Homo sapiens: one gene and its partners. The protein of the gene in region 1 purifies or fractionates together with the protein of each later gene. This does not show direct contact. Each region holds a gene or a part of one and is shown on either strand. Other genes may lie near its edges.

Region 1 (4,186 bases):
ACCATTAACTACCATTTATCCCACTTAATTAGTATTTTCCTGACACACAATAACTTGCACTAAAATACCATTCTCTCGCCTTTAAATTTCTAATTATTGTTGCGACCTACACCATTACGCATCTCCACTGCTTTCTCCATCTTTCATGCCATTTAAGCGGTAAGATTTTCAATTATCTACGCAGGACGGACAGAGATACTTTTAAGGAAAGGGACATAATATGCAACTCAATTTCTCTAAAAGCCAGGAGAAATCATTTTTAGTCAGAACAAACACACTTTGTCTTTCATCTTTTTTTTTTTTTTGGCAAATAAAGAGTAAAACAGGCTATTTAAAACATCCATTTAAATGCAAATTTTGATATCCCAAGAGAAAAATGTTAATCATTTAAATAGACAGGATTATCGCCCACCCTTACCACTTCCCTCCTCTCCCAAGTTTTAGAAAACGTAGCCTTAGCCCACACAAGTCAAGTCAGCCAGGAGTCCTTACATCTTAAGAACTCCCACTCAGATGAGAGGGCTGAGGCAGATAGAGGGGGACTTTTCCTTCTTTTGAGGAAGGAGATGGAAAAGAGAGAAAATAGTCTAACATATCCTATAAGCCAGGCATGGGGCAATATTATAAATACAAACACACACACACACACACACACATGCATGCACACACACACACCCACACTTAATCATCACAACTGTCTTGGAACGGGGAATTATCATCCTCATCTACAGACAAGGAAACTGAGGCTTAGAAAGGTGAAGCAGTTTGCCCCACTGGTAGGTGACCCAGTTGGGAGTAGAGGCCTCCATAGCCCTCCCAGTCCATGGTGACCTGCGGTCCTGTCCAGACTCACCCAGCATCCCCATGCCAAGCATGAACGCGTCCATGGTGTAAGGCAGTCCCCGGGCCCGGCCTCTTGTCCCAGGTGGGAACATGACTTCTTTCGGCTGAGCTTTCTTACATTCTACCTGTTAAACAGAAAGGCGAACAAATGAGATGCAAATGAATTCCACGTAAATGTCAAATGCAGAACCTGTCTGGTTATGAGCTAAGTTATTTTTAGCCTTGCTCCTTACCCACTGTAAAAATAGCCATGCCGAGTAAATGGCCTGCAAAATAAATACTTAAGAAAACACGCCACTTGTGCAAATCCTGCTTCGGAAAAACCTACAAGGATGAAACTGGGTTCTGGAGGGGTGGCAAGGACGTAAGCTGCAGATATACACACAGATTGAAGCTCAGGCTGACGCTCGTGCAGAAAGCATGACAGATAAGGAGGCAGACAATGGCTGTTGGATGTGTCTGTGAATAATAACAACAATAGCAATAATAATAATCCCTCAGGATTTTTCAGCCCTTTACACATTTACAAATGCCCCTGACATTCTCTCAGGCCAGTGACTCTTCATGCCAGGCCATCTGATTCAAACTCTTATTAAACAGACAGACCACTTAGCCTTAGCTCCAGTTCACAGATGAGAAAACAGAGCATCAGAAGTTTTGTGTTGGCTGGGCGTGGGGGATCATGTTTGTAATCCCAGCACTGTGGGAGGTGGAGGCAGGTGAATCAGCTTGAGCCCAGGCGTTTCAGATCAGCCTGGCAACATGGTGAAACCCCGTCTGTACTAAAAAAATACAAAAAACTAGGCAGGTGTGGTGGCACACACCTGTAGTCCCAGCTACCTGGGAGGCTGAGGTAGGGGGATCACCTGAGTCTGGGAGGTCAAGGCTGCAGTGAGCCATGATCACGCCACTGCACTCCAGCCTGGGTGACACAGCGAGACCCTGTCTTAAAAAAAAAAAAAAAAAAAAATTCTTGTGCAACATGCTGAAAGCCCTCCCCAACAGGTTCAGGCCTACAAACCAGATCTTTAGAATTTCTAGGTCAGCAATGCCACATTTCCACAAAACCTACACCACCACCACACTCCTGAGGGAAGTAATAAGATTAAACACTGATTCTGTTCATCTGGATTACTAGTTTCTCATTTGCAGCTACATTTTCAAGTGGTTGCTAATCTCCCCTTTCTGTTTCCCTTCTGACTCTCAAATTTCTTCATGCTAATCTGCTTGTATACCCAGAGGTCACTTATTTAATAACCTTAACTATGCGAACTATAAACCTCAGGGAATAAGTAAAACTGTGGCCCTCGGAAGCTCCTTCACTGTTTTACCAGAGCGCCTTAGGCCTGTGCTTATTAGCACTTATTTGCTTTTTGTTTACAGAGAAATTTAACAAGCATTGTTAGCCAGTCATCAATCCCACTGCTGATGAAGATGGGATGTTGCAGGGTAAGGCACGGATGCTTTTAACAGCCAAAAGAAACAGCATGGCCGCCTGATAGTGACGGAGAAAAGACAAGAAACAGGTATCTTATTTAAATGACGGAGAAAAGACAAGAAACAGGTATCTTATTTAAAGAGCAGTCTGGGCCATATGGTATAGGAACAAAAGCTCTACATAGTTCAACAGCTGCTGAGGTATCACTGTAACACAGAAAATTGCTATTGTTCACAGGTGTGCCTGAGATAGCAAGAAAAAGTTAAACTGTGTGCAATATACATTGTTTAAACAGAGACCTCTAGGCCGGACGTGGTGGCTCACACCTGTAATCCCAACACTTTGGGAGGCTAAGGCAGGCAGACTGCTTGAGTCCAGGAGTTCGAGACCAGCCTGGCTATCGTGGCAAAACCCTGTCTCTACTAAAAATACAAAAAAATTAGCCAGGTGTGGTGGCATGCTCCTGTAATCCCAGCTACTTGGGAGGCTAAGGCAGAAGAATCGCTTGAACCCGGGAGGTGGAGGGTGTAGTGAGCCGAGATCGCACCACTGTACTCCAGCCTGGGCGACAGAGCGAGACTCTATCTCAAAAAATAAAAAAAATAAATAAAACGAAAATAAAAAAGGAACCTCTATGGGTTATCCATTTTGGAGATACTCACATCCCAAATACTTCAATCAAAAAATATTTTAGTGCTCAAGGTTAGGGGGATGCTATAATTACCTAAGATATAAGTCACCTTTCTTCAAAGACACCGGACAACAGGTATTACTCTTGCTCTTTCAAGAATAACCACAAATGCCTTAAAAAGTGGACAAAATGGTTCAACATTCATGACTAATATGCTTAATACAGAGTTCTATAGATTAAAAGAGATGAGCATCCCAAAACAGACATGGGTAAAAGACAGGAGTAGACAATTCACAGACGGCTAATAAAGAACACATTCCCCAAGATGAAGCATATTTTTTGCCCACAGATTGACAGTGATGAAAGCATTGTTTGATGTAAGGGTTTCTGACGGTATAGTGTGGAGGGGTGGAAATTGGCACGTATTTTTCTGGAGGGCAACCAGACACTACATCAAAAGCCATAAATTTATACATACACCTAGTAATCTTACCTCTAGGAATTTGCCCTACCGGAATTAGAATTTTTTTTTTTAATAAAAGGAAATACCTAAAATATAGAAGAACAGGGAATTAGCTGAGTTTGGATTATCCACACTGATTGAATGCTATGCAGCTATGAAAAAGTGTGTTGATAATAATCATGCACTGGTACTGGGAAACCCCTCAGTCCCAGGCAAACCAGGATGATGGGTTTCTTTAACTGCAAGCGGGAAAACAGCAAATGTCACTGACTTTTTGAAAAATAAACAAGTGCATATATCATATAGGGAAAAATACTGAAAAGACATACTAAAGTTGTCTTAGAATCACTCTGTTTTTAAATTTTAATTGGGCATTTTGCTAGTTATTTTCTAAGCTTTCTGCTAAGCAACAGGGAGCAGGTTTTTGTAAGATAATGCAATAGACTGTCACTGATAGGGCTATTAGAATATTGTCATTGCAGGTAGGGGGGAAAGGTGATTGAAAACAACAAACTCATCCAAATTGGCTCTTTTAGGTTTCTCTCCTAAGCCCAGGGGTGAAAACTGGCTTCAGGACTCCAGAGGAGCAGGCTGAGAAATCTCATTTGCATGAACCTGCCCCAAGCCTAGGAAGATGGGCGTGTCTCGCACAGGCAGACAGATAATTACCCAAAGCCAACACCAGCAAGGGGAATAATACCGCTAACCAGCTCACTTCCTAATAGCCCTATCGGTGACAATCTACTGCATTGTCTTATGAAAACCTGCTGCCTGTTCCTAGGCAACCCGATCAACGGAAATCTCAGGTTTA
Region 2 (3,843 bases), on another chromosome or scaffold:
TGCATTGTTGCAGAATTAGAAGCATGCATGTATGCATCCAAAGTGTTACTTAAGCTGTGCTATAAAGAAAAGAGCCTGTCATGCAGTGGGGAGTGGGGGCAGTGTGGTGGCACCTAAGCAAAGGGGCAGAGACCTCCATGTGGGAAAAGGCTTGGAGCATTCGAGGAATGAATGCAGGCCAAGGTGGCTTGAGCTCCTGGGAGAGGAAGAGCAAATGTAACAGAAAGAGACAGTAGCATCTAAGAACTGGTTATTTCTACCTCCCCGACTTTCTGCACTGCTAGAATACACCTGGTCAAAATCAAAGGGGTCCAGGGGAGGGAATGCAGAGACTTGGTTAAGCTTTTTAGCAGGAAAAGAAAACAAAAAAACAGAAGAAAAAATAGAAGTAAAAATAAACAAATGTCACCATGAGCACCAAAGGGAGAACTGAATGCTATGTGATTAAGTTATTCATAACCTTGGCTTCTTCCATGGGAAACAGCAGGTGACAATATTTTTAGAGAAAATTCCAAGGCAGACAAATGATTTCCAGTTTATGGATACAATAAACCCCTCAGTAATTCATAAAAATCAGTTTAAGCCTAAAAATGTTCTAGTTAAAACATCTATGAGTAAATAGGTGAATTTATGGTATGTAAATTATATTCAATAAAGCTGTTACCAAGAAAAAAAAAGGTCATGGACCCCACTGAAAGGAACCAGAGCTCTTTGAAAGATGGCTGATAATTGGACCAGAGTAGTGAAACCGAGAAATGGATGAAGGAATGGTGGGAGCCTGTCAAAAAGGTACTGGAGCCAGCTTAAAGGGCTCCTACTGGCCAAATTTAGGATGATATTAGCATCAAAAAGAATAATGGGTATCATTGATCTTAAGGCCCTGACAAAAAATTTCAGCCCACAGTACAGTCAAAGCAAATAGAGGGGGAAAAAGTCACTTGCCCCCACTGGGAATGGCAATACCCCATCAGTTAACATTCATTTTTCATTTTAAAAATTGGTAATTAAAGGCTGGGCACGGTGGCTCATGCCTGTACTACCAGCACTTTGGGAGGCTAAGGAGGGTGGATCACTTGAGGCCAGGAGTTTGAGACTAGCCTGGGAAACCTGGCGAAACCCGTCTCTACAAAAAATACAAAAATTAGGACAGGTGGCATGCACCTGTATGCCCAACTATTCAGAAGGCCGGATGGGAGGCCGGGATGGGAGTCTGGGAGGTCGAGGCTACAGTGAGCCATGATCAAGCCACTGCACTCCAGCCTGAGTGACAGAGACACTGTCTCAAAAAATAAAAATAAAATTTGGTATTTAAAGGTAAAGAATTACTTTACCTTATCTTATAGAAGGATAACAGCTAATAAATTTAGAAAGAATGAAGGAATTTTAAAAATCAACACTTTGTGAATGCCAGTGACTTCTTCAGGGGAGAATGATCAGATGGTGTAAACACCACTAGGTGAAAGGCTGATGAGCAAGAGACCATCTATGGCTACCTAAGCACTCCACAGATCACTGCTAAATGCAAAGGGAAAAATGTACCTTTACAGAAAAGATCAAATTTAGCATCACAACTAGTGATGTTTCCCATGTGTGCTGAGGATGAAGTACTCACACTAAAATGTTTAAACGGAATCTATTCAGACACTTAAAAGATTAAACATCCGGTTCAGAAAATCAAGGCAGGGAACAAGTTAAACAATACCATGAGAAAACAGTAAGACAGATGTGGAGTATTCTATAACTAGCCTGCTCTCTTTGAAGAAATCAGAGTTATTAAGAAAAAAACAGCGTAAGGACTCTTCTAGACTGAGATTACAGACATAACAACTGCGATGAGTGAGGCTCAATGGAACTGTGGTTTTAAAAAAGAGCAACACTTTGGAGACAACTGGGTAGTCTCGATAGGCATTTGCTTCACAGCAGGCATCGTTACTCCCATTTTATAGACAGCATGTGGAAGCTGGGAACTGTGGGACAATTTGTTCAAGCTCTCATAGCCCGTTGTATGGCAGGGTCAAGATCAGAACACAGCGAAGAACCCACATGCTCTTTGGGGATCACTGTCCACCTGGCACCACTTCTGCCCACTGCCTGAGCTGGCACTCCACACACCTGGGATACAACCAGTGTCCTGTTTCTGCCTTTGCCCCCAAAAGCCCATTGTCCACACAGTAGCCAGAAGGAGCGTGGGTTGGGGGGGCGGGGGCGGGCATTAAAAGCCAAGCCAGCCAGTGGCTCTCACCTGAGTTAGAAAAAGGCAACGTTTTTATAAAAACCAACGAGGCTCCACCATCCCCTCATCTCCTGCCACATACCCTTTCACACAATCCACTTCCTGTTCCTCTAACGCACCGGTCTTCTTACTGTTCCTCTAATGCACCGAGCAGGCTCCAGCCTCAGGGTCCTGCACTAGCTCTTCCCTCTGCCTGGATACTCTAGACAGCCCTGTAGCTCCCTCTCCAATGTCCTTTGAGTGAATGTTAAAATGCCATTTTTTTCAGAGGCCTTTTCCAATCACCCTCACGAAAAGCAGCCAACTTCCCTTCCCATCCCTCACTCTGCTTTAATCTCTCCAGCGCTTCTTACTACCTGATGTGCTCCATGGCCATACTATCAGTCTCCTCATCATAAGCAAAGCCCCACCAGATCAGGTCTTTGTCTATTTAGTTCACTAGCCATGTCCCTAGAGCCTGGCTTGCTGCTGTTGCTCAAAAAACATCTGCTGTGGGAAGGCAAAGGGACTTGTTGCAGCCCTGCCCAACAGTTACAGCCTGTGTGCCTCAAGACAGCACACGTCAGGGGAAGCCATCTGAGGCATCTCTGCTGAGGGTGAGCCTCCCTCCAGACATCAGATCACCAACCAAGAGATACCTAGCAAGGGAGTGGATGGAATAAAGCAGAGGAGAGGGGGGAACAAAGCTAAGGAAAAGCAAGGGGCTTGAGGGAGGCTGCAGCAAAGTGGCCACACCTGTCCCGGGAGCCTCAGCAGCCTTCCCAGTCAACCTCCTGAGGACATGAGGTTGAGGGGCTCCTGGTTTTTCTCAGTCAGAAACCGGGAGGCTATACCTGACTTAAACCTGATCCCAAGGACAAAATGTCCAGTTAGTTACTTTTTAAGAAGAAAAAAGAAAACATTCCTTCAATCCCCTTGGGGCTGCTCTCACAATGGCAGGCACACGGCCTGCTGAAGTAAGTAAAAGAGGTCTAAACCTAGCTGTGTGCCAGGACAAGCTAACAGTAAAGATGACGAAGCTACTGGAGGCAGCAGGGAGGCGCCATGAGAATTCCCTGGCTCCTAAAGGCACTTACTTGGCAGCTTACCTTTCCACCACCTCCCTCCCACCTCAATGCCTGTCATGCTCCTAGGAGATGCTTAGCTGGTGATAGTGAACTTTGTATTTTCCCTCTGGTACCACAGAGGTAGTGCAGGCATTCCTTTGAGGCCTTGCTCATGCTGTGCTCTGCCAGAAGGTCACGGAAGTCACCAGAGGGACCCTTGAGAGTGACATCAAGGTGACTGACAGCCATTAGTGGCATTTAAAGCATCCATGTGGTAAAGGTCAGTCTGTGCTCTGCACACCTGTGATGGCTAAGGGGAGATTTTGGCCACCTTACTTCCACCCCTCTTTCTCTGGACCCGTGCCCAAATCAGCTGAGTGGACACCTGGCAAGAGCTGACTGGATCAAGAGTGTTCACCTTACTCAAACTCTCCTTCTCAGAGAAGTAACAATCAGAATCACAGCCAAGAAATCTGAGCCAGATACTCAAAAGAAGACAGAGAAGCTGGCCATGGGGAGGGGGGAGGGGGGAGGGGGGACGGGGGAGCATGCAGGGGACTTCCA
Region 3 (3,843 bases), on another chromosome or scaffold:
AAAAAAAAAAAAAAAAAAAAAGATAGATTGTGTAAGCCTTTATATAGATTACTAAGTTAAAAGTTTATTTTTAACCTATAATGAGAAATGCATGGTGGGGTCCTGTTAAAAATGTGCATTCTAAGTTCGAAGTCATGAGAATTTTATTTTCTTTTCTTTATTTTTGAGAGGGGGTCTCACTCTGTCGCCCAGGCCGGAATGCAGTGGCGCAATCTCGGCTCACTGCAACCTTCTCCTCCTGGGTTCAGGCAATTCTCCTGCCTCAGCCTCCCTAGTAGCTGGGACTACAGGTGCCTGGCACCACGCCAGGCTAATTTTTGTATTTTTAGTAGAGACCGAGTTTCACCATGTTGGCCAGGCTGGTCTTGAGCTCCTGACCTCAAGTGATCCTCCTGCCTCAGCCTCTCAAAGTGCTGAGATTACAGGCGTGAGCCACCGCGCCCAGCTGAGAATATTATAGTTTCGTTTCTAAAATTGCTCCACAAAGGAAAACCTCCCATCTTAGGGAGATTTTCTCTATCTTTATTTAAAATAACCAAGAAAAGCTTCATTTAAAATGTTTTAGAACATTCTACTTAGTCATATGACTTTAAATATAGTTTGATAAATAGTTTGTTATGTTCTGTATATGTTAAAGTCTAATTGAAGTAGCTTTGTCAAACACTGAAAGTAAGGGCCTCTTAATGACTGGTAGTAGAGGAAAGCCTTGCCACACACAGTCCACGTAATTATTTTTGTGTGGACATATTGTAAACCCCTACCAAACAGATTATTTTTTTAATCCTATTTGGTTAGGTCAGTTATGAAGATGTTTTAATTTTCTGAGCAAAAGTGTAGTTTCTTTAAAAATATATAATTCTTTTCAGCCTGTTTGTTGAGGCTTCGATAGACAGAACGTAGTTGTTGACAGTTTCAGGAGTCTCGTGAGATAGTAGAGCAATAGAGTCACATTGAATAACCCTTGGGATCATATAGGGCTTAGGGAGAATGGCATTGTTTGAAATTTTTTTTGTTGTTTTATTCTCCTACTTAGGGATTTACTTTATAAAAGTGGTAAAACATACTCAGTTTGTTACAAGTCAGATCCACTACCACAAATTCCCTTTAGTGGGCACACTTTTAAGTGTAGGCCCACTTATTTTAAGCAGCGTTTAACTGAGTGAAAGTCTAGTTTCATTAAAAGATCTGTTGATGTGGGTTATAATAGAGTTTGACTTGCATTAGTATCTAACTGTTTCTACTGAGACAGTGGTATTTGTGTTATTAACTTTTGGGAAAGAGGGAGTAGGGAATGATTTAGACATTAAATGTATTCCTTTCTGCCAGGCATGATAGTGTGGAGATTGAGGCTTGAGGCTCGATAACTTGAGCCCGGGAGTTCGAGGCCAGCCTGGGCAACATACTGAGACCCCATCTTTAAAAAAAAAAAAAATTATACACACACAAAATGCTTGGAATAATTTGTGTATTTTTTATCTCAAGTTTGTTTCAAATACTCACATTTCTGGACTATTTCCCCTATTGTTAAGTCTGCTTAATAAATGCCAGCTAGTTTTTATGCCATCAGAAGTGAAATTAAGAAGGCAGATGGACTAAAAGAATCACGTATAAGGGATTTTGAAGTGAAATACATTAAACTCTTGATTACTCTTAAACTATCCACTTTAACGGGTTCTACTTGGACCTTCTTGGTGGCAAGGCCATCTCCTCGGTGTAGGTTATGTGTCAACATTTTGTTCCATTGGCTGTTTTTCAAGTGTGAACTGTTATTTGAAAGGAGAAGGACACGCCAGGGGAGAGCGTGTGAACTGAATACTCAGTGATTTCCTTTAGCCCCAAGGGAAGGATGTATCTAAACACAAAAGCCCTGTCTTGCCGAGGGTTGGAGAGGGATCTGTGTTTCAGTGACTGGTCTGAGAGGAGATGGTTGCCATTTATCAGTAGGAGTCAACAAAAGGAAACTTAATACAGCCCGGCACAGTGGCTCACGCCTGTAATCCCAGCACTTTCGGAGGTTGAGGTGGGTGGATCCCTTGAGGCCAGGAGTTCAAGACCAGCCTGGCCAACATAGGGAAATCCCATCTTTACTAAAAATAAAAAAATTAGATGGACGTGGTGGCTCATGGCTGTAATCCTAGCTACTGAGGAGGCTGTGTCAGGAGAATAGCTTGAACCGGGGAGGTGGAGGTTCAGTGAGCCCAGATCGTGCCACTGCACTCCAGCCTGGGCCACAGAGTGAGACTGTCTCAAAAAAAAAAAAAAAAACCCAAAACTTAATAGCTTGTGTTTGAAAGTAGTTGCAAAACGCGACACCCTTGTTAAGAGTGAGTATGGCAGACACGTGGGGAGTGCCTTTGCTGCTGCTTCCCTCATTAGCACAGATACTTTGGAGTTGACGAACATGTGACGTTTGAAATTGAACGTATGCTTTCATTGAACATTGTACTTTTCCTGGGTCTTTACTAAGGAACATTCCTCATATACTAGACGAAATTGTATCAGATGCTTTCACATCACAAATAGAGCCATTTTGTATTTGATGTTTTGCTTTCAAAATTATGCAACAGTATATTTTGTTTTAACAGAATATAAATAATGCTGGGTAAGAAGAGTGGCCAACTGCCCGATAAGTTAAAATTCCAGTGAGAGAGAACTAGGAAAACTGAGCTCTTGAACAGCTCTGAAAACATTGCGTTGAGGTATCTAGCAATGTCATTTATTATGAATTGTTAGTCAAAACCTGTTTATATGATTTTTCACAGTGGTTTTATACCTAAAAGGCATTGGATCAAGAAACAAAGTTATTACAATTTGGGTCTTCTCTAATGAATTACCCTGTCCGTGTTTATTTAAGTGTAAATGAACATACAGTTATGTGCTGCTTTAATGATGTTTCAGTCAACAACAGACCGCATGTACGACAGTGGTCCCATAAGATTATAATGGAGCTAAACAATTTCTAGTGACCAGTGAGTTGTGTTACAGTTGCCTACGGTATTCAGTACACAACATGCTGTACGGGTTTGTAGCTTAGGAGCAATAGGCTCTAGCATATGGCCCAGGTGTGTAGTTGGCTATACCATCTAGGCATGTGATCCCACAATGACAAAATTGCCTAATGCCACATTTCTCAGAACATATCCCCATCATTAAGCATGGCTGTGTATCCTAAAACTGATCTTTATTTTGGCAGTTTATAAATCATGCATATATTTCCCCCCGCTCCTTGGGGGAAATGGTTTCTCAGATATTTTGCACTTCCTCTTCAAACTCTGAAGTACACAGGCAGTGGTCATGCGGCGTGATCTAAGTTAAAAAGGCGTGGCACCTGTTTACCGGGATCCACCCTTGTGGACTGAGAGTTTAGTCCACATCTGATTCGATGTTTGTAGCCTCACATTTATTATACATCTTTCCACTTCAGAAACATAAGTTGATCTGTAGTCAATGGGTAGTGGTACATTTTGGTCACTTTGCTGTCCTCCACCTGGTTAGATAACCAAGATAGTGTGTGTTCTTCCAAATTGATGGTAATGAGGAAAAGAAAAGCACTTGGAGAATGTTCTGGACAGTTAGAATGATGACAGAAAAGCAGGTCAACAACACCAGAATGTCGATTACGGGCCAGTTATTGAGCCCTAAGAATCAGAGTTCTGTACCTTGCATTTTCAGGGATTTTCAATGTTAATATGACCCCTAAGTCCTAATTTTAGGAAAACAGAATTTGATGTGTAAAATATGTGTAAGAATAATCATAGCTTATGATGACATAAAAGTTTACGATGCTGGTATTGCCTTTGAGTTGATAAACAATTTCAGTGGGCTGATTTGTGGCAGCCCTTG
Region 4 (3,843 bases), on another chromosome or scaffold:
ATTCTCAGCCCCGGGCCTCTGAGGCTGCTGGCTCTATCCTTTGCCAAGATTTATGCCCCAAGTCTCCTTGAGCTGCTGTTGTCTTTTGAGTGGTGCTTTTTCTTTTTTTTCTCCTTCTGCCTTTTTTTTTTTTTTGAGATGGAATCTCGCTCTTGTCGCCTCCTGGCTGGAGTGCAGTGGCGTGATCTCGGCTCACTGCAATCTCCGCCTCCCGGGTTCAAGCGATTCTCCTGCCTCAGCCTCCTGAGTAGCTGGGATTACAGACGCCCACCACCATGCCTGGCTATTTTTTTTTTTTTTTTGTATTTTTAGTAGAGATGGGGTTTCACCATGTTGGCCAGGCTGATCTTGAACTCCTGACCTCAGGTGATCTGCCTGCCTTGGCCTCCCAAAGTGCTGCGATTACAGGCATAAGCCACCATCCCTGGCCTTTTTCATTTTTATTTTTTGAGACAGGGTCTTGCTCTGTTGCCCAGGTTGGAATGCAGTGGCATGATCATGGCTCACTGCAGCCTCAGCAACCTCCTCCCCACGAGCCCAAGCCATCCTCCCTCCTCAGCTTCCTGGCCTCCTGAGTAGCTGGAACTACAGGCACATGCCACCATTCCTGGCTAATTTTTGATATTTTTTTGTAGAGATGGAGTTTTTCCATGTTGGTCAGGCTAGTCTCAAACTCCTGGGCTCAAGTGATCCCAAAGTGCTGGGATCACAGGCGTGAACCACTGCTGCTGGTTGAGTGGTGTTTTTTCTTAGCTCTGCTGCAGAACCCCACTCTCTGGAGGCCTCTTGCTCCTGGTGGGGAAAGCTTCTTGGTTTACCCCTGAGACCTCCATGTGCAGTGGGCATTTAATTCAAATTGGAGATCTGGCTGCAATCCAGTCCACACTCCTCTCTCCAAACCAAGCACCCTGGCCAGGGATGCAGCCACAAAGAGGGAAGGGCATCTTCTAATTTGTACCAAGGAGCTGTATGTGCCAGCAGCAGCCTTGCTGGGGCCCCAGGGTTCAATGTTGCTATCCTGTTTCCAGCCTTCCCTGTTTCTCCTGAGATGCTCAAGCTGAGAGCCATTGCTCCAGACCCAGGACTGCCTAAACATTGCCTGGGCTCAGTTCTCCCTAGACCCTCACGAGCCGTCACCTGTAATTACAGCTGGCTTCCATGGGGGTGGTGTGGGCAGCCTCCTATCTACTGTATTTGAGAGACTTTCCCAAAAGGACCTCAAGCCCTCCCGTCTCAAGTCTTCCTTTTTCCCAGGGGTCCTCTTTTCACATGAGGATGGCCTGGGATCACAGCCCCTGAGGACCCTGGCAGGATAACTGGGCAGCCCTCTGCCTTTTTCTGACCCGGAGAGCCCGGAGCCTCTGGCAATGTGGTTGCAGAGGTGATGACGACAGACAGTATGCAGCGCTCTGTGTTTCCAGCAGAGGCCAGCTGGCCTGTTCCCATCTGAGTTTAAGGTTCTGCGACTGTCTAGTCTCCCCTGCTGCTCTGGCGGACAGAGGTTGGCCGGCACACACAGTGTGGGGTGGGGTGGGGACAGGAGGTGTTTGTGCTCCTCAGCTGGCCCTCGGCTCACCTACCGCATCTGGGATCTTGCAGATTATGCCAAGGAGCACCTGGCTCAGCTTCAGGAGAAAGCTGAGCAGATCGCAGGCCGCATGCTCCGCTTCTCCGTCTTCTACCGCAACCATCACAAGGAGTACTTCCAGCATGCCAGGTATGGGCGCGGGCTCCCGGCTGGACCCGCCGGGCCTCTCCTCCCTCCCAGCCCTTCCTGCTCCTGTCCTGGCTGTCTGAGGTCACCCCCACCCTCGTGGCTGCCAGTCCCTCCTCTAGGGTTGACATGTCCTGACGTCACCAGGCTGGCTCTGAAGAGACTGCTACTTTGGGGATTGGGCTCAGGGAAGATCAAGGGCTCTGGGGACAGGGCCTTCTGCAAGAGTGTTGTACTAATGAGCCTGGGAGAATGAGGTCTGGGTTTGCTCCCACTCTGGGACAGTTCCTTTCACAGGGGTCTACCACCACAGGTCTCTCCGATTCAGGCCCTGGGGCCAAAGGGAAGGTGGCAGGGAGTGCACAAAATGAGTGTTCTGATCACAAAGGGTTCGAGGAAGCACCCAGCTCGTCGGTTTTCAAACTGGGTGCTCCCTCCAGGGAGACATGTCAGTGAACCCCTTAGAATGCTGCCATGGGGTTGGGGGGACCAGAGGTTGAGGCTTGGTGGGCCCCACACCTGACCTCCAGTCAGAGTAGCCTCAATTTTATTTGCCTGTGACCCTTCCACGTATAATTTCTTTTGGGGATAAAAAGAGAGTTGCTGCAGTCCAAAAGTGTTTGAAAATTGGTGATCTGATCCAACACCCTCAGCCTACAGAAGAGGAGCCTGAGGCCCAGAGGGAAGCACTTGTTCATTCGAGCCAGGGAGTCACTTGTTACTGAGGACAGCCAGGACCAGGCAATGTGAGGCAGGACCAGGAGTACCCACCATCCCCGGGCCTGCTGGCAAGTGCTCCAAGGCCGCATCCTTCTGAGGCTCAGCCAGGGCAAGCAGCTGCTCTGCCTTTTTTTTTTTTTTTTTTTTTGAGATGGCGTCTTCTCTGTCACCCAGGCTGGAGTGCAGGGGCGCGATCTCTGCTCACTACAACCTCTGCCTTCTGGGTTAAAATGATTCTCCTGCCTCAGCCTCTTGAGTAGCTGGGACCACAGGTATGCGCCACCATGCCCGGCTAATTTTTGTATTTTTAATGAAGTGGGGTTTCACCATGTTGGCCAGGCTGGTCTCAAACTCCTGACCTCAGGTGATCCGCCCACCTCGGCCTCCCAAGGTCCTGGGATTACAGGCATGAGCCACCACGCCCGGCCTCTGTCTGTCTTTATCCTTACAGTCAGGGCAGTTTTAACCTCAGGGCAGTGAGGACCTTGGGAGTCTTTGGGGTTTGTATTAAAGAAGCAAGGCCTGCTTGGTGGCTCAAGCCTGTAATCCTACCACGTTGGGAGGCCGAGATGGGATCTCTTGACCCCAAGAGTTCAAGACTAGCCTGAGCAACATAGTGAGACCCCAGCCTCTGCAAAAAATTTAAAGAATTAGCCGGGTGTGGATTGCTTGAGCCCAGGAGTTCGAGCTTGCAGTGAGCTGTGATTGCACCACTGCACTCCAGCCTGGAAAGCAAGTCAGTGGCCCAGTTTGGGCTCCTTTATCAGCGAGAGTGGGAGAGATAGAGAGCACTCATGGGTGCCAGGCACCTTACTTGGTGCCAGGATGTAAAGATAAAGGCACAGTTCACTCTTTTGAGAACCTCAGAATCCAGTCAGAGAGACAGTATGGAAAGATTTCATGTAAAAAGTACGTGTAATTGTTGAGCACAGTTCAGTGTCCTGGCCAGGTGAAGTGGCTCACACCTGCAATCCTAGCACTTTGGGAGGCTGAAGCAGGAGGATCACTTGAGGCCAGGAGTTCAAGTCCAGCCTGGGCAACATAGTGAGAAGATTGGGTGTCCTGCACATAGTAGGAAGCCAAAAATTTGTCAAGTGCAGGTGTCTGCTGTTCCTGGGAGGTTTTAGAGGGGAGCAGACGCTTGACTGAAGCTTGAAGGCTAATTAGAAGTTTGCCAAGCCAGACGGAGGAAGGTGGAGAGGGCAGTCAGTGCAGCAGAGGGAAGAGTCCTGCATAGGGGTCACGGAGGCAGGAGACTGTGTGTGCAGGGGGTGGGTAAGTGGATGGGGTGGCAGGAGGTGGGGAGTGGCAAGGAGACCACAGAGATCAGATCATGAGCCGCCGTGTTTTTCACACACACCCCATCAAAGGGTTTCAAGCTGGGGAGTGACAGCTTCATATCTCTTCTC

What was found. The genes of interacting proteins can lie anywhere in the genome.
Region 2: the proteins of MSI2 (region 1) and FKBP1A fractionate together in Homo sapiens (co-fractionation; one large-scale study listed by BioGRID). This does not show direct contact.
Region 3: the proteins of MSI2 (region 1) and USP10 purify together in Homo sapiens (affinity purification with western blotting; one study listed by BioGRID). This does not show direct contact.
Region 4: the proteins of MSI2 (region 1) and PHYHIP purify together in Homo sapiens (affinity purification with mass spectrometry; one large-scale study listed by BioGRID and IntAct). This does not show direct contact.

The regions. Positions count from the first base shown.
Region 1 is NC_000017.11:57,612,752-57,616,937, reverse strand, and holds part of MSI2 (RNA-binding protein Musashi homolog 2), read right to left. Parts: intron 969-4,186; coding exon 854-968; intron 1-853.
Region 2 is NC_000020.11:1,386,555-1,390,397, forward strand, and holds part of FKBP1A (peptidyl-prolyl cis-trans isomerase FKBP1A), read right to left. Parts: intron 1-3,843. UniProt on the Homo sapiens protein: Keeps in an inactive conformation TGFBR1, the TGF-beta type I serine/threonine kinase receptor, preventing TGF-beta receptor activation in absence of ligand.
Region 3 is NC_000016.10:84,748,157-84,751,999, forward strand, and holds part of USP10 (ubiquitin carboxyl-terminal hydrolase 10), read left to right. Parts: intron 1-3,843. UniProt on the Homo sapiens protein: Hydrolase that can remove conjugated ubiquitin from target proteins such as p53/TP53, RPS2/us5, RPS3/us3, RPS10/eS10, BECN1, SNX3 and CFTR.
Region 4 is NC_000008.11:22,222,100-22,225,942, reverse strand, and holds part of PHYHIP (phytanoyl-CoA hydroxylase-interacting protein), read left to right. Parts: intron 1-726; exon of another isoform or gene 727-1,501; intron 1,502-1,599; coding exon 1,600-1,717; intron 1,718-3,843. UniProt on the Homo sapiens protein: Its interaction with PHYH suggests a role in the development of the central system.